2 linked regions of the Homo sapiens genome follow. The protein of the gene in region 2 interacts with the protein of the main gene of each other region in a pairwise test. Each region holds a gene or a part of one and is shown on either strand. Other genes may lie near its edges.

Region 1 (3,500 bases), on a different chromosome or scaffold from region 2:
ATCACGAGGTCAGGAAATCAAGACCATCCTGGCTAACATGGTAAATCCTGTCTCTAATAAAAATGTAAAAAATTAGCTGGGCGTGGTGGCGGGGACCTGTAGTCCCAGCTACTCAGGAGGCTGAGGCGGGAGAATGGCATGAACCCGGGAGGCGGAGCTTGCAGTGAGCCAAGATCGTGCCACTGCACTCCAGCCTGGACGACAGAGCAAGACTCCGTCTCAAAAAATATATAAATTAATTAATTAAATAAAGCTGTTTAAAAAAAGAAATATAAGGGAAGTCATTATACACTAAAAAGAAAAAATACAGCACAAATAAACTACTATAAGATATTCTGACATTTAACGTATTAGAACTTCCCATAGAAATGAACAAATTTTACCTTCAACATTACAAAACATCCCTATTTCTCACTGGTATTTTTACAGTAGAGTTTCATCGATTATAAATCCACTCAAATATTTTAAGCAAAAATAAGGGTAAAACCTTACTTTCTGCCCAATATCTATCCATTAAAGAGAATCCCAATTTCTTTTAAACATATATACTTGTATCTGGAAGAATAATTTAGTCTTAAGCGATTTTCCAATAGTAAAATTACTATAAGGATAAACATGATTTAGCACTCACGAGCCAATGATAGCTAACAACAGTGACCAAATATAACAACAGTGACAAAATATATTACCTACATAAAACCTGGTAGCAAACCATCACAGCTCTCCTCTTGTTATAACCTGCATTTACATCTGATTTCTTTTTAAAACAAAGAGTAAAACATATGCTAATGAGTAAGAAAATATTTTGCTGCATACATAAAATTTGGACAGCCCTACAGTTCACTGCAATATTTTGTGATATATCTGAATGTGATTTAAAAAAAAAAAAAAACACTTGCTAAGAATAGCTTTCTAAATCCTATAGCAAGTCTGTGAAATAAATGGGTAATAAATATTATTGGTGTTAAAAAGCTCAAGGCAACTTGTTCAAGGTCACCCAAGTAACCAGTGGACATATATACATGGTGGAAAAAAAATAACAAGGGTTCCCAACCATAACTTTCCTCTCCTCCACAGTGGCAGCTACTCGTGATGCGAATGTCCTGCAGGCACAGAGGGCCTACACGAGGCAAATCACCTGGTGTGCCCCTCTCAGGGCTTGCTCTCAACATTTTTAAAATCAGGTCTAAATAAGCACCAGGGTAAGGGTCTGGCTTGCAGGGGCATCTCTCTCTTCTCATGCCTTCCTGACTAGAAAATCAGGAGTGGGGAAATGTAGGAACAAAAGGAACAATTTTCTTTTGTGAAGCAAATATATGGAAAGAAAGCCTAAGCTTCACTTTTCCAATTCTGACCAGATAAACTACTCACTCCTCCTCTTCGAGAGCACCCAACAGGGGCTCAAAAATGCTGCTTTCATCCTCCTTGCTCTCCCAACCCAAGAGCACCCAGGCTACGGAAACCTCAGGGTCCAGACCACTCAAAGGATCACAGTTTGGGAACCCCCGAGGTGGACTGCAGAGGAGTACGTTCTGAAGGACTTGAATCAGCTCCAAAGTGCCCCCACACACTCAGTGATCTATAAGATACAAAACTAGAAAGAACTAGAACTACACTCTAAGGGTGTGAGGAAATGATTTTTAAGGAATACTAAAGTCCTAAAAAACAAGTCAAGAGAAAAATGCAGAATTATGTAAGAAGTAGAGATTACAAACATCAATAACAGACATAAGTACTTCAGAGTTAGAGGACATCAAGCTAATATTTCGTAAAGAGCAACCACATGACAAAAATACTCAAAGCTGTAAGCCTTCCTTGGCCTTGGAAGGTCATGAGACTTTTTTTTTTTTTTTTTTTTTTGGCTAAAACAAGGAATGCTTTAGTGAGAGAGAAGAAAAGAACTTCCAGACTTCTAGGTGGCTCCCACTTTTTTTAAAAAAAACTCCTCCTCTCTCTTAAGTGTATGGTCCAGTGATGTCTGGTTACCATGCAAGTCACATCAACAGCTGGACAGCACTGAGCATCCTTAGAACTCTAGGTCTTGTTTTTCTACTAAAGTTTTCCCAATCTTCCTTTGATGTCTGGCACCACCAGCCGACAGCAGCTGACTAACGTGTTATCATGTGACGCTCTGTAAAATAGTAAGGCACAGTAAGATTTTTTTTCCTTTCAGTAAGCTTATGCTGATAAAAAAATAATTATTTTAATGATGTATTTAGAAAAAGGATTATGTACAACAGAAAGTCACAAGGGTAACACTAATTAAAAGGTGTCTCAATTTATTACTACGAATATTTCACAGAACCTACATGCATTTTTACCTGATATTTGCAAAGGCCGTTTCATATTATACATATAACCAGCAAAGAAGGAATATAGAAAAGTGTGGGTCTGGCTTTTCTATCATGAAAAGCAAATTTAACAGTGATAAAGAAGGCAATCAAGATACAAATACAGAAGCCAGGCATGGTGGCACACACCTGTAGTCCCAGCTACTCAGGAGGCTGAGGCAGGAGGATCACTTGAGGCCAGGAGTTTAAGACCAACTGGGCAACATAGTAAGACTCCATTTCAAAAAAAAAAGATAAAGATACAAACTGATATTACGATCTTACTCATTATATCAACATATTTATTGAGCACCTACTACATATACTGGGCACTGGTGATTAAACCAGGTATTATCAACTTCATATTAACCTAAAGGGCAAGAAAAGGACCCTAAGTGATTAAATAATATATAAATTGTGGTAAATATTCAGAAGCAAAAGTGATTACGCTATGAGGGAGAAAATAAAGGACATTTAATTCGCATGACGATAAGGGTGGGCTTGTCAGAGAAGACCTTTATGAGAAAGGACATTTGAGCTAGCACCCAAGGATGATAAGTTACTCAAGGAGATGATCCTAAAATAGGGAGACCAACAGCATGAGCCACAGGCCTGAGGCTAGTCTGCTGGAGAACTGGCCAAGATGACAGCAAGAGATGCAAGTGGATGTAGAGATCAAATCATGCAGGATCCTGAAGTAATGTCAAGGATTTGGTATCTTATCCCAAAAATAAATAAATGTGTTTCCTGAGAGCCCTGACAACTTTAAGACGGCAAATACTTTTTCTTTTTTTTTTCAGGCTGCTGGTAGTAAAACAGACTGCAAGGGGTGCAGAGTGTGTGCAGGAGGCACCGCACCAAGGAAAAAGATAATACAGTACAGTGGCTTGCATTAGGATGGCAGAATAGTGGGGACTGAAAATCAGACCGGTTTGAAAGAGATTTTGCAATAAAAATGGACAGCAGGACTTTATGATGGACTGGTTTGCTAGGGCTGATAGAAGAAAAGAGAGAGTGGAGTGAGCTACTCCTTGGATGGATGAGATGAAAAATGGAGGGGGAACAGTTTGAAAGTTTGAGTGACCAAGAGCTCAATTCTGAAGGAGTTTGAGATGTTGTCATTTATTGGCTGAAATGTGCCAGGCACATCTAATATATATTAGATGTTCT
Region 2 (2,461 bases):
AGAGCAGCTTCCAAGGATCACCACTTTGGGGAGGTTTCTGGACTGGACTGTTTTGGAGACTTCCAGTGGCCCCTGTTGTTGGTGTGGATCAAGAAAGGGTGGTGGGAACTCTCCCCTCCCTCATTCCCTGAGGTAGAGTCAAGGGAAACCAACCACCCATCCACCCAACTGGACCAGTTTCCTCATTCTCCTTTTGGGCCATGGGGAATCTATGGCTCTCTGGGAGCTGCTTCTAGCCCAATGGCACTGAACAGGGGTCTAGGGATGGGGCACAGCTTCTTCGGGGAGTTTTAGGGCCCTGTGCTGACAGCTCATCACTAATCACTTGCCAATTCCCCAGGAGGAACGTGTCAGCAGGTGGGGTTTCTGCCAGAGTCCGAAGCAAGCGGGCAGCAGGAGAAGCAGTGGGGCTTGGGGAGGTAAGAGCCTCCCGCACCAGGCCATGACACACCTGGGAGACAGGTAAGGGAGAAGAGAAGAGAGCAGCAGTGGCTGAAAAGGCAGAGGAGTGGGAGGGGCCAGGTAGTGGGGACTTGGGGGGTGTGGAGGAGAGGGCTGAGAGGAGGTCATTCTAGGGGATCTTGGAGACAGACTGCTGGACAGGAAGACAGAGTAGGGGTAGGGATAAGGGAGTTCCAGGAAGCGGAGACCTTGGGCCAGATTCTTGTTGGAGGGGAGGGTGGTAGGCAGCATGGGAGAGGACAGAGGACAAGAGGGGACATGTCTGGGCACAAGGAAAGGCAAGCAATGGAGGCAGCAAGAGCCCTTGGCAGCAAGTTTCCATCACCTTTGCCTGCCAGTGTGTGAGAGGCGCAGAGGGGCAGTGAGCAGGTGACATGCAGCTTCCAGATACCCACACACTGCTTTTCTCCCGCCCAGCTCCCACCCCAGTTAATTGAGATGGGATTGTTTCTCTTTCTGGTTTCTTCCTAAGCCCCTCTCTCATATTCCTGGTGTGCTTATGGCCTGGCACACCTTGTGAAACAGAAACCCAAGCTCCTCATTTCGGAGCTGGGATTTCGATTGGCTATCTGCCTCCCTAACCAAGCTGTCCCTTCCACCTCATCCCTAGAGTCACCCTCTGGTCTCATCAACATCCAGTGGGCATTTCAGTGGCCCAGGATCCTTCAAATTGCAGATATAAAGCATCAGGACCCCACACCTGGGATGGAAGCTTCTAGGAATTAATGAAGCCCCAGTAGAGGTGAGGGTAAACCTAAAACGGGCTGGATAGGGCCTCTCCCAAGGCCCTATGGAAAGGTGATGGGAAACTGGGGGCTGAGGCCTCATCCTAGGAGACCCCTGGAGGGACCCACTTACCCTAGATAGGCAGCGGAGGCCAGAAACTGGAAAACAGCCACTCATTGTCGGTGCATTACCGTGAGCACCACCTGTAGGGACTCTGTTGGCCTCCAGCCGTCGTCACACGTTCCTGACAACCACAAAAGTTCATTTGAGGGTGCCCAGTCAGCTGACTTTGCTTCCACCAGGAATACCCACCTGGCCCTGGTCCTTCTGCTGAGCTACAGGAGGCATTCCCAGGGTCTTAGCAAAAACAACCCCTCAAATAGGCCCAGTGCCTACAACTCTAGAGAGGTTTCAGATGGTATTGGAGACCCAGAGAAGTTAACTGACTTTCCCAAAAGTCACCCACTGTAAATGGCAGACAGATCTCAAACCCACATCTGAGCCTGAGTCCAGTGTTTTTTCTCTAGTATCATCATTGTCCCTTAAATGTGTTTGACACATCATAGTTTACAAATCACCTTCACTCATATTCTCTCACTACTCATCAGTCATGAATTCAGCCAATGAGAAGGGCTCAGAGAGGTTAACTAACCAGCCACGCTGTTTACATGGGGCATAGACTGCTTCATGAACGCTTGACTGCAGCTTTGCCTTCCTCATGCCCTCAAAAAGGAAGGAGCTGACCAAAGCTTACTATACCATAGCTGGGGTCTGGGACCCCCAGCCAGGTCTCACAGATGATCTGGGAATGGCCTCCCTGTTGCTCTCAGGGGTCCGGCAGTCACACAGAAGAGTCAGGTTGAAATCTTGGCAAGACTTTGGTGTGGCTTTGGGAACTGGGTTTAACCTCTTGGGGACTTCACCAAGACAGTGGCAAAGGACACCACCTACAGCTTCCAGTGCCTCTCTACTCTCCCACCTGTGCTCCTGGGGTTGAATGAGACCAGAAGCAGCTGGGACAAGATTTGGAAAGATAAAGAGAGCCAGGAGACAAGACCTTGAGAGAAGCAGAGGTCTGGCTGGCTGCTGCCCTCTGGTGGTGACAATGGTGACACTGTAAACCCCTCTGTCAAGGTGACACTCTCCCCTGACTATTCAGGAGGGAGAAGCAATCGCCCCAGGACAGAGACGGGGACATCCCAGGAGCAGGGTACAGGCTCTAGCAATATCCATCTTGCGGTACTCCCTCCCTCACAACAACCAGACCACACAT

Evidence for each region. The genes of interacting proteins can lie anywhere in the genome.
Region 1: the proteins of PHOSPHO1 (region 2) and RASSF8 interact in a two-hybrid assay, tested with the Homo sapiens proteins (one large-scale study listed by BioGRID and IntAct).

What each region holds. Positions count from the first base shown.
Region 1 is NC_000012.12:25,961,682-25,965,181, reverse strand, and holds part of RASSF8 (ras association domain-containing protein 8), read right to left. Parts: intron 1-3,500.
Region 2 is NC_000017.11:49,225,327-49,227,787, forward strand, and holds part of PHOSPHO1 (phosphoethanolamine/phosphocholine phosphatase), read right to left. Parts: intron 1,433-2,461; 5' UTR 1,366-1,432; coding exon 1,321-1,365; intron 452-1,320; coding exon of another isoform or gene 330-451; intron 1-329. UniProt on the Homo sapiens protein: Phosphatase that has a high activity toward phosphoethanolamine (PEA) and phosphocholine (PCho). Involved in the generation of inorganic phosphate for bone mineralization.